3 linked regions of the Homo sapiens genome follow. The protein of the gene in region 1 purifies or fractionates together with the protein of each later gene. This does not show direct contact. Each region holds a gene or a part of one and is shown on either strand. Other genes may lie near its edges.

Evidence for each region.
Region 2: the proteins of MARK4 (region 1) and MTCL1 purify together in Homo sapiens (affinity purification with mass spectrometry; one large-scale study listed by BioGRID and IntAct). This does not show direct contact.
Region 3: the proteins of MARK4 (region 1) and MTCL2 purify together in Homo sapiens (affinity purification with mass spectrometry; one large-scale study listed by BioGRID and IntAct). This does not show direct contact.

What each region holds. Positions count from the first base shown.
Region 1 is NC_000019.10:45,257,673-45,261,322, forward strand, and holds part of MARK4 (MAP/microtubule affinity-regulating kinase 4), read left to right. Parts: intron 1-1,316; coding exon 1,317-1,517; intron 1,518-3,650. UniProt on the Homo sapiens protein: Serine/threonine-protein kinase. Phosphorylates the microtubule-associated protein MAPT/TAU. Also phosphorylates the microtubule-associated proteins MAP2 and MAP4.
Region 2 is NC_000018.10:8,820,422-8,824,071, forward strand, and holds part of MTCL1 (microtubule cross-linking factor 1), read left to right. Parts: intron 1-1,045; coding exon 1,046-1,077; intron 1,078-3,650. UniProt on the Homo sapiens protein: Microtubule-associated factor involved in the late phase of epithelial polarization and microtubule dynamics regulation.
Region 3 is NC_000020.11:36,793,909-36,797,558, reverse strand, and holds part of MTCL2 (microtubule cross-linking factor 2), read left to right. Parts: coding exon 1-57; intron 58-606; coding exon 607-677; intron 678-2,959; coding exon 2,960-3,650. UniProt on the Homo sapiens protein: Microtubule-associated factor that enables integration of the centrosomal and Golgi-associated microtubules on the Golgi membrane, supporting directional migration. Preferentially acts on the perinuclear microtubules accumulated around the Golgi.

The sequences.
Region 1 (3,650 bases):
TCGCCTGGCCCATAATATTTTTTTTTTTTTTTTTTGAGACAGAGTCTCGCTCTGTCACCCAGGCTGGAGTGCAGCGGCGCGATCTCGGCTCACTGCAAGCTCCACCTCCTGGGTTCATGCCATTCTCCTGCCTCAGCCTCCCAAGTAGCTGGGACTACAGGCGCATACTGCCACGCCTGGCTAATTTTTTGTATTTTTAGTAGAGATGGGGTTTCACCTTGTTAGCCAGGATGGTCTCAATCTCCTGACCTCGTGATCTGCCCGCCTCGGCCTCCCAAAGTGCTGGAATTACAGGTGTGAGCCACCATGCCTGGCCTTTTTTTTTTTTTTTTAGACCAAGTCTCACTCTATCACTCTGGCTAGAGTGCAGTAGAGCGATCTCGGCTCACTACAACCTCTGCCTCCCAGGTTCAAGTGATTCTCCTGCCTCAGCCTCCAGAGTAGCTGGGATTACAGGCGTGTGCCAATGCCTGGCTAATTTTTGTATTTTTTTAGTAGAGATGGGGTTTTCACCATATTGGCCAGGCTGGTCTCGAACTCCTGACCTCATGATCCACCCACCTCAGCCTCCCAAAGTGCTGGGATTACAGGCCTGAGCCACTGCACCTGGCCACCTGGCCCATAATTTTTATATGCACTGGGAATCCAAAAGATTCATGTGCATTGCTTTTTTGCAGTATTTGCTTTATTGCGGTGGTCTGGAACCAAACTTGCGATATCTCTGAGGTATGTGTGTAATTAGAAAAGGAGGTTGGGGCTGGATGCGGTGGCTCACATCTGTAATCCGTACAGCCGAGGCAGGTGGATCACCTGAGTCAGGGGTTTGAGACCAGCTTAGTCAACATGGTGAAACCCCGTCTCTACTAAAAATACAGAAATTAGCCAGGCATGATGGTGCACGCCTGTAATCCCAGCTGCTCGGGAGGCTGAGGCAGGAAAATGGCTTGAACCCGGGAGGCAGAGGTTGCAGTGAGCTGAGATCGTGCCACTGCACTCCAGCCTGGGTGACAGAGGAAGACTCCATCCGAAGGAAAAAAAAAAAGACAAGGAGGTTGGGGGTAGTCAGACTGCAGTGAGGGTTGAAGAAGGGGTGTGATGCCTGGGGCCCTGAATGTTGCAGATTTGGAGGACATGGGGGCTTTTGTTCCTGGAGGCGTCTTTTTGTAGAGAAAGATGAAGGATGCTTGGCTCTCTGGGGCCTGAGTTTGAAAAGGGCCACGGAGGGGCCGGTAGCCAGGCCTCAAGTTAAGTGCACTAGCCCACGGGTTCCACGGAAGGTGGGATTGGATAGCTCATGCTCCATCTCCCCCGCCCAGCATGGCACCTTGGGCAGTGGCCGCTCCTCGGACAAAGGCCCGTCCTGGTCCAGCCGCTCACTGGGTGCCCGTTGCCGGAACTCCATCGCCTCCTGTCCCGAGGAGCAGCCCCACGTGGGCAACTACCGCCTGCTGAGGACCATTGGGAAGGGCAACTTTGCCAAAGTCAAGCTGGCTCGGCACATCCTCACTGGTCGGGAGGTGAGTATGGGCACAGGGTGGGGCTCGGGGCAGGTCCCTGTGGGACCAGGTCTTCGGTGTATGTTGATAGAGGTCAGGATTGGCCCTGGGTTTGCTTTGTGGCCTCAGGTAAGTTCCCGACTCTCTATGGGACAGGTCACAATATCTCTGATGTTCCCAGAACCACCCCCATGGGAAAAGAGAACTAATTTCATGTATCCCTGAAATTGCCGGGAAATCTCAGATCACAGGCAGTCCAATGTGTGCGTTGCTAAGGATGCATGTGGCTTTTGTAGATAAACCTGAGCTGTGGCCGGATGCATTGGCTCACACGTGTAATCCCAGCACTTTGAAAGGCCAAGGCAGGAGGATTCCTTGAGCTCAGGAGTTTGAGACCAGCCTGGGCAACATAGCAACACTTTGTCTCCACTAAAAAATAAGTAAAATTTTTTAAAAATTAGCTGGGTGCGGTGGTGTGTGCCTGTGGTCCCAGCTACTTGGGAGGCTGAGGCGGGAGGATCGCTTGAGCTCAGGAGTTTGAGGCTGCGGTGAGGTGTGACCTCACCACTGCACTCCAGCCTGGGTAACAGAGTGAGACCCTATCTCAAAAAATAAAAATAAAATAAAATAAAAGAGGGCTGGGCATGGTGGCTTACGCCTGTAATCCCAGTACTTTGGGAAGCTGAGGCAGGTGGATTGCTTGAGGTCAGGAGTTCGAGACCAGCCTGACCAACATGATGAAACCCTGTCTCTATTAAAAATACAAAAATTAGCTGGGCGTGGTGGCACATGCCTATAATCTCAGCTGCTCAGTAGGCTGAGCCAGGAGAATCGCTTGAACCCAGGAGGCGGAGGTTTCAGTGAGCCGAGATCATGCCACTGCACTCCAGCCTGGGTGACAGAGTGAGACTCTGTCTCAAAAAAATAAAAAAATTAAAAGGCCGTGCGCGGTGGCTCACTCCTATAGTCCCAGCACTTTGGGAGGCCAAGGCAAGTGGATCACCTGAGGTCAGGAGTTCAAGACCAGCCTGGCCAACATGGTAAAACCCCGTCTCTACTAAAAATATAAAGATTAGCTTGGTGTGATAGCAGGCACCTGTAATTTCAGCTACTTGGGAGGCTGAGGCAGGAGAATTGCTTGAGCCCAGGAGGCAGAGGTTGCAATGAGCCAAGATGGTGCCACTGTATTCCGCCTGGGCAACAAGACCGAGACTTTGTCTCAAAAAAAAAAAAAAAAAATTGGCCGAGTGCAGTGGCTCATACCAACAAACACAGCGCTTTGGGAGGCCGAGGCAGGTGGATCACCTGAGGTCAGGAGTTCGAGACCAGCCTGGCCAACATGGCAAAACCCCATCTTTACTGAAAAAAAAATACAAAAATTAGCTGGGTGTGGTGGTGCGTGCCTGTAAGCCCAGCTACCTGGAAGGCTGAGGCAGGAGAATCACTGGAACCCAGGAGGCGAAGGCCGCAGTGAGCCGAGATTGTGCCACTGCACTCCAGCCTGGGTGACAGAGCAAGACCATCTCAAAAAATAAATAAATAAATAAATAAATAGTAAATAAATTAAAAATAAAAAATAAATAAACCTGAGCTGCCTCTCTGTTTTAAGGGTGGACTTTGGTTCCTTGAAATCTTCCTGTGATCTGGAGAACACAGCAGGTTTATTTATGTTGTATTCTCAGTTACACACAGCCTCACTCTCCCCACCACCTCTTCCAGAGCAGGCATCTGTGCTGAGTATGGTGACATTATTGCAAAAAGGGCCCACACAGGCTTTGCAGCCTAGATATGAGGTCTCTAACTCACTTAGAGGAAAAGGAATGGTGGGTGATTTCATGATTTCCCCACCCCTCCTTCAACTTCAGAGAAATGATTGGAATGAATTATCCTGCCTTGGATGGACTCTCCCCTGCCCTCACGCTGTCTACACCATACACGCAAAAGACACCGGGCCCCGATGGTCTTACAGGCAAATCCTACCAGATGTTCACATTTTATGCCAGTTCTTCCAGAGACTAAAGAAAGAACTGCCACTGCCTGACTGATTTTTACGCGCTAGTTTGTCCTTAAGAGCAAAACCAGACAAGAAACAAAATTACAGGCCAATCTGGTGAACATAGGTATAAAAATCTTATACAAAATATTAACAAACAG
Region 2 (3,650 bases), on another chromosome or scaffold:
TGATTCTAGGACTCATTACCTGTGAAGCAGTTCAACAGTTGCTGCACCTATCATTTGGTCTCCTAAACACTCAAGACTTAGAAGAGTTCATATCAAATAGTGTTATTGAAGTATGCAGAAATTATATTTCACCCACATCAGTAAGGTCAAATGCCTTATCCTCAGCAATGTGTACCAGGTTGATAGGACATTGCCACAGTCCCACCCTGTCTGATCTATTGGCAATCTTATACAGTCCGATTACATAGTAGAGGTAACGTGGGGTGGGGTCAGGAGCCTGTGCGTGGGTTCCAGCCCACTGGACCCTGCATGGCAGAGACAAGGGGCATGCTCATTAAGGGGAAGGGTACCCCTTGCTATTTACTGTCTTGAAAAATATGCTTCCCTTACTGTTAGTCAGAGTCTTGCTGCTTCAAAACCACATCAGCACAAGAGTGTTTTCTCAGCAGACAACCTCGTGTTTATGCCGTTCTCTACAAACACAGCTATCATTCTTCTTAAAGGGGAAGGCACTGTACTTTGCCTCTGATTCTAAATGGGAATGTTTAAAACCAACCAAGTGCCCGAGTCTAAGGATGTCACGCCAACTTCTACAGCAAGATCGGGACCACTAACGTTACTCTATCACCTTCCATCTTTCTCTCTAACATAACACATGCACACTCTCTCTCTCTCTCTCAGTCTCACTCTCACACTTAGGTTGTTACAAATCCCGCTTTGAAATTCATGTAGTCAGTGAGGTCCTTTGAGGAAGCACAGAAGAGCCACCTCCTCCATGACAAAGTTTATAGCCAGTTGTTCTCACTCATGTGGGCTTCTCCCTGGACTACAGAAGCTCCAGCCCCTCATCATGCTGTGGACTCGCTTTGATGATTGTACTTTAAAGGCCTCAGGGCAGTAGCACTCCTAACCAGAGCTTGGCCTCAGTGCACATTTTAAATGGTGGTTTCCTGGGGGTGCAGAGCAAACAAATCACTTAAGTACATTCAGGGCTTCTGGACAACCAAAATTAACCGATTCAGATGAAGTTATTTCTTCTTTATAGGAAGAAGAAAATCACAAAGGAAATCTTCAAAGGTAAGTAAGATTGATGAAAATAATAGATTACTAGAATAAAAATGTCTTGGTCTTAAAATGTTGTTTTGTCAATGCAGTCTATTTTACCACTCTCTTCAAAATGACTTAAAATTATGCCACTTCTGAAGAAGTGGCTGCTTTATTATTCATTTCATAAACATGGTATTTTTGATTATTAACAAAGAAGTTAGACGTGCTGTGTCACATGTGTATGAGTTTTATGGTAAGGACTTTCCAGTTGTTGTTGTGTTATGTATACAAAGGAATGCTTGTGTTGAGTGGTTTTTGAAAGGTCCATGGAAACCTCTCTTTTCTCATTTAAAGTCTGGGAAAACTCTCTTTTGTATGCTGTGAGATGCTTTATACACTGTATTTAAAAGCTCCACTAAGAGAATTTATTAAAATATTTTCTGGCAGTAGTCCTTGAAGAAGATATATAGTGGTTGATGTGGTTGTTAGTTACACACCAGTTTTTTCCTCCCCAGTTTAATTTCCTCCAGTTTTACTTTTTCATCATTCTCCAAATGAATACATACCGTTTCTACTACATGAAATTTCTTCTCAGGCAATTCAGCATTTCCAGATCGCCTCATCCTTGATTTTCCTCTGAACTTCGAGTCTGTGAATGACTGTCCTCTTCCCATTTGCTCCCTGCCAGATCTCTGCAGCACCTAGCCATGCCTGTGGCACACTTCTGTCCTTCACGCTGTCTTCTCTGGTCTTTCTTGGGTGGTACAGGACAGTACTTGAGAGCTCAGGCTCTAGAGCCAAACTGCCTGGGTTGGTTGGTTGGTTGGTTGGTTGGTTGATTTTTGAAATGGAGTCTCGCTCTGTCTCCCAGGCTGGAGTACAGTGGCACAATCTTGGCTCACTGCAACCTCTGCCCCCTGGGTTCAAGCAATTCTGCATCAGCCTCCCAAGTAGCTGGGATTACAGGCAAACCCCACCATACCCGGCTAATTTTTGTCTTTTAATAGAAACAGAGTTTCGCCATGTTGGCCAGGCTGGTCTCGAATTCCTGACCTCAGGTGATCCACCCGCCTCAGCCTCCCGAAGTGCTGGGATTACAGGCGTGAGCCACTGTGCCCAGCCCAAACTGCCTGGGTTTGAATCGCTTCTGCCTCCTTGGGTAGGTTACTCAACTGCTTTGTGCCTCAGTTTCCTCATCTGTATACAGGACGTATTTTGATTATCTTTTTTTTTTGCAGCTTATGTATGTTAATACACATAATGAAAGCAGCACATGGCACAAAACAAACAGTAAACAGAGTTTAGTCATTACACCCTCCCACCTTCCCCGTTCACAGCAGCAGCCACATCAGTGTTTCCGGTTAGGCTTTGGAGCAACTGTACTTCACCACTCAAGCCATCAACTTTTATGCTTTCAAAAGTAACACATGCTTGTTATAAAATGTAAATATTGGCTGAGGCAGGAAAATTGACCGAACCCGGGAGGCGGAGGTTGCAGTGAACCGAGATTGCGCCACTGCACTACATCCTGGGCGACAGAGTAAGACTCCGTCTCAAAAAAAAAAAAAGATAGATAGATAGATAGATAGTCTCAAAATATCCAAAGTGGAAACTGGATGCGCCCTCCCCACTGTCCCCATGTCCTCTGATTCTGACTGCCCGGTATGTTTCCACCATACTCTCTTCGTTCCACCTGCAAGCGCCTACACATGCTCCAGATGTATCCCGGGTTTTCTCATCATGGTTTTGTTTGCTTTGGCCACTGCTGAGGTTAATGCCTCTGCTTTCTCTGTCTTTATCATCTCTGTTCCACCATATCCATCCATGCCCCAGAGGCACTGAGTTCCCACCCAGGTAGGTGCCACTGATTTAACTCTGAGACAGTTCCTCTGTGGGCAAAAGTGGGAGTTAGATGAGCTATGTCCACAGAAATGTGGAAAGGACCAGGGTGTTGGCATGTGTCCGGCACTTACAGTCCCCAGCGAACAGTGTTCTGAAACTCATCATTAATTCAGCAACTCCTTGAATTGAGAAGAGGGAAATTCATACTTGCTGGAAAGCTCATGACCTTGGGACAAATCAACCCATCCCTACCATTGCCCTTCCTTTCCGGCACTGGATATAGCCAGCTTGTGGTTATTCAAAGCACCACTGGACAGTTTGTAGATTATTTCTAACAACAAAAAGATAACAAGATGGAATGCCTAACGATGTCACTTTTAGCCTGCTGTTTTACCCCGTGGTGCTGACCACATGGACGGGTGCCTTGCCCCCAAGGTGAAGCCAGCTGTCAGCAAAGCTGCCCAGAGCTTTGCTGGTTCTGTGTACCAGCGCACACGGTACAGGGACTTGCTCAGAGCAGACCCCAATTCTGGCCTCATCATCATTAATAGGTCCTATGGAGGAGTGGTCCATACACTCAATCTGGGACCCCTTCCACAGGGCCTGCACTAGTCTAGATCCCTAGGTTTAAGCCTGTGCTTTGTGGGGTGAAAGGAGTATCAGTATGTCCTGTAAGAATCTGGACAGTGAGTCTACAGACACCTCATCGCCCCATCCCACCCCAGCTGGAGGGATTCCAGGCCAAAGAGGTTCTGTTGCCT
Region 3 (3,650 bases), on another chromosome or scaffold:
GACCCCTGGGTCCTGAAGCACTCGGAGCTGGAGAAGCAGGACAACAGCTGGAAGGAGGTGAGTGGGGCGGCTGCTGCCATGCTATCTTGGCTCCTGGCTGCACCATAAAGGTCCCTGCTTGTGGGGGACATGAGAGGAAGTTGCTAACCCTGTCTCATAGGTCACACCCTTGCACCTTGGGCTCCTCAGCCCTGGAGTCTGTATCTCATGGTTCCTGCCTCAAAAAAATAAAAAAAAAACCCAACCACCCAGGGACTGGGCTAAGTGAGGGGGTAGGGTTGAGGAGGAAGAAGACAAGCCCACCACCAGCTGAGCAGTGGACCACTGGATGCTTTGTTGCAGTCACCACATTTGGATTAAATTTTAAGTGGTCCCTTTCCTTGGGTGGGTCACTCTTGGAGCTCTGATTGGCCCAGCCTGGATCACATATGGTGGGGGAGTTGGATGCAGGGCAGCCAGAAACTGACCATGCTAGATCATTGATGACATCATTCCTGCTCTCCGGATGAGGAGATTCAAGCACTGAGGTCGGGGCTGGTCTCTTGTTCCATGCCCTTAGTGCTCTGGTGGCCAGAACTGACCCTTCCTGTCTCTCTTCCTTGACAGACACGCAGTGAGAAGATCCACGACAAGGAGGCTGTTTCCGAAGTTGAGCTTGGAGGAAATGGTTTAAAGAGGTGCTTGCATGCTGGTCCCCTGCTCTGCCTCTCTGACCGGCCCCACAGCCTCGCCCCTCTCCACCTCCTGCTGCGCCCTGCACCCACTCTACCTGCTTTCACCGCAGCCCTGCCCCGCCCCTTTGCCCTCTTCCTGCCGCCACCCCACCGCATCCAAGTTGGGAGAGCATCGGGATATGGTTTCTCTGGAACCCGAGCCACTCAGGAGCTGGAAGGCTTGGGGCAGTGGGAATTCCAGGCTGCTGCATGTTGTTTGAGTCCGGGAATGGAACACAGGTGGAAACAAAACATTTTGCTCCTCTTGGGATTCTTTTCTCCTGCCTCTGGAGTTAGGAGAGTCAAGATTGACCTCTATTCCTGGGATTATTGAGCAGCATCCTTTGGGCCCAGCCCTGTGCTATGGCCAAGGAGACCCCCACCCCAAGACCATAAGGACCACGTCTCCACTGTTAGGAAACCCATGAAAGGAGTCAGGGAAACAGAACCCCCAGCCGCTATCAGACCAGCCCAGAAGCAAGGCAGGCGGGACAGGCTGTGGAGCCAGAGGGCCAGGTTTGAATGCCAGCCCTGCCAGTTCTAGCTCTATGACCTTGACCTTGAGCAGTACTTCCCATCTCTGTCTAGTGGGGATGATAGGAGCTGCCTCTTGAAGTTAATCAGAGTGGTCTGACACGTGCATTTCCATATGCCTGGTGTGTTCAGTGATTCAGGCAATAGGTGTGCCAGGAGCTTCATGGCGTCTTAGTTTGGGTTCCCCCATAAGCAAACCCTGAGACAAAGATTTAAGTGCAAATGGTTTATTTGGGACAGAATTTCAGGAAACACTTGGAAGTGAGACAGGGAAGGGAAAGCAGCCGATAAAAGGAGCTTCAACCAGGTTATTCCACGGGCAACTGGAGTTCAGGCTGTCGGAGGAACTCAGGGAGCCAGAGGAGAACATGCAGCTTAGAGTCATCCCACCACAAGGAGGCTGGGGCACTTGTTCACCATATCCCACCTATTGTTTGTTGAGGGCTGTGTTTAGGGGTGTGAACTCATTAACTCTGTGCTATCTCTAGCTTCGGTTTGGGCGTGTGTTTTGTTTTTTTTGTTTTTGTTTTTTTTTTGAGGCAGAGTTTTGCTCTGTCTCCCAGGGTGGAGTGCAATGGCACAATCTTAGTTTACTGCAACCTCCACCTCCCAGGTTCAAGCAATTCTCCTGCCTCAGCCTCCTGAGTAGCTGGGGTTACAGGCTAACGCCACCACGCTTGGCTAATTTTTGTATTTTTACTAAGAGATAGGGTTTTACCATCTTGGTCAGGCTAGTCTCAAACTCCTGACCTCAGGTGATCTGCCTGCCTCAGCATCCCAAAGTGCTGGGTCTAGCTTCTTCTATGTGTAGGACAGCCAAGTATGATCCCACAGGCAGAAAAAAAAACCATCAGATAGAGAATGGTGGAGTATGCAGTTCAGAGTATGCAGTTTTAGGTGTATAGGTGAAAGTGCAAAGAGAGGCCAGGTGCAGTGGCTCATGCCTCTAATCCCAGCATTTTGAGAGGCAGAGGCAGGAAGATCTCTTGAGGCCAGAAGTTTGAGACCAGCCTGGGCAACATAGGGAGATCCCCATCTCTACAAAAAATTTTTTAAAAATTAGCCAGGTGTTAGGCTGGGCACAGTGGCTCACATCTGTAATCCCAGCACTTTGGGAGGCTGAGGCGGGTGGATCACCTGAGGTCAGGAGTTCCAGACCAGCCTGGCCAACATGGTGAAACCCCGTCTCTACTAAAAATACAAAAATTAGCTGGGCGTGGTGGCGCACGCCTGTAATTTCATCTGCTCCGGATGCTGAGACAGGAGAATCTCTTGAACCTGGAGGGTGGAAGTTGTAGTGAGCCGAGATCATGCCACTGCACTCCAGCCTGGGTGACAGAACAAGACTCTGTCTCAAGAAAAAAAAAAGAAAAAAAAAAGCCAGGTTTGGTGGTGCACACCTGTAGTCCCAGCTACTCTGGAGGCTGAAATGGGAGGATCACTTGAGCCCAGGAGTTTGAGGCTGCAGTGAGCTATTATTGCACTACTGCATTCCAGCCTGGGTGACATATCAAGACCTGTTTGGGAGAAAAAAAAAAAAAAGAAAATGCAGACAGAATGTGGGACTGGGCACCAACAACATCTCTACAAGAGGTGAACAAGACGGTCCTGGTCTTTGCCCTCACGCAGCACACGGACCAGGGTGGTAGACCAGAGTGTGCCCTCAGTGTTATTTCCACTAATAACGACGTTTCCTCCTCTGTCCTTCGCAGAACCAAATCTGTTTCTTCCATGTCTGAGTTTGAAAGTTTGCTCGACTGTTCCCCTTACCTTGCTGGCGGAGATGCCCGGGGCAAGAAGCTGCCTAACAACCCTGCCTTTGGCTTTGTGAGCTCCGAGCCAGGGGATCCAGAGAAAGACACCAAGGAGAAGCCTGGGCTCTCGTCGAGGGACTGCAACCACCTGGGTGCCCTGGCCTGCCAGGACCCCCCAGGGAGGCAGATGCAGCGCAGCTACACGGCTCCTGACAAGACGGGCATCCGAGTCTACTATAGTCCCCCGGTGGCCCGGCGCCTCGGAGTCCCTGTGGTTCATGACAAAGAGGGCAAGATCATTATCGAGCCCGGCTTCCTCTTCACCACAGCCAAGCCCAAAGAGTCGGCCGAGGCTGATGGGCTGGCTGAGAGCTCCTATGGTCGGTGGCTCTGCAACTTCTCACGGCAGCGCCTGGACGGAGGCTCAGCGGGCAGCCCCTCGGCGGCCGGGCCTGGCTTCCCAGCGGCCCTGCATGACTTTGAGATGTCAGGCAACATGAGTGATGACATGAAGGAGATCACCAACTGTGTGCGCCAGGCCATGCGCTCCGGCTCACTGGAGAGGAAAGTGAAGAGCACATCCAGCCAGACGGTGGGCCTGGCCAGTGTGGGCACACAGACCATCCGCACGGTCAGCGTGGGCCTGCAG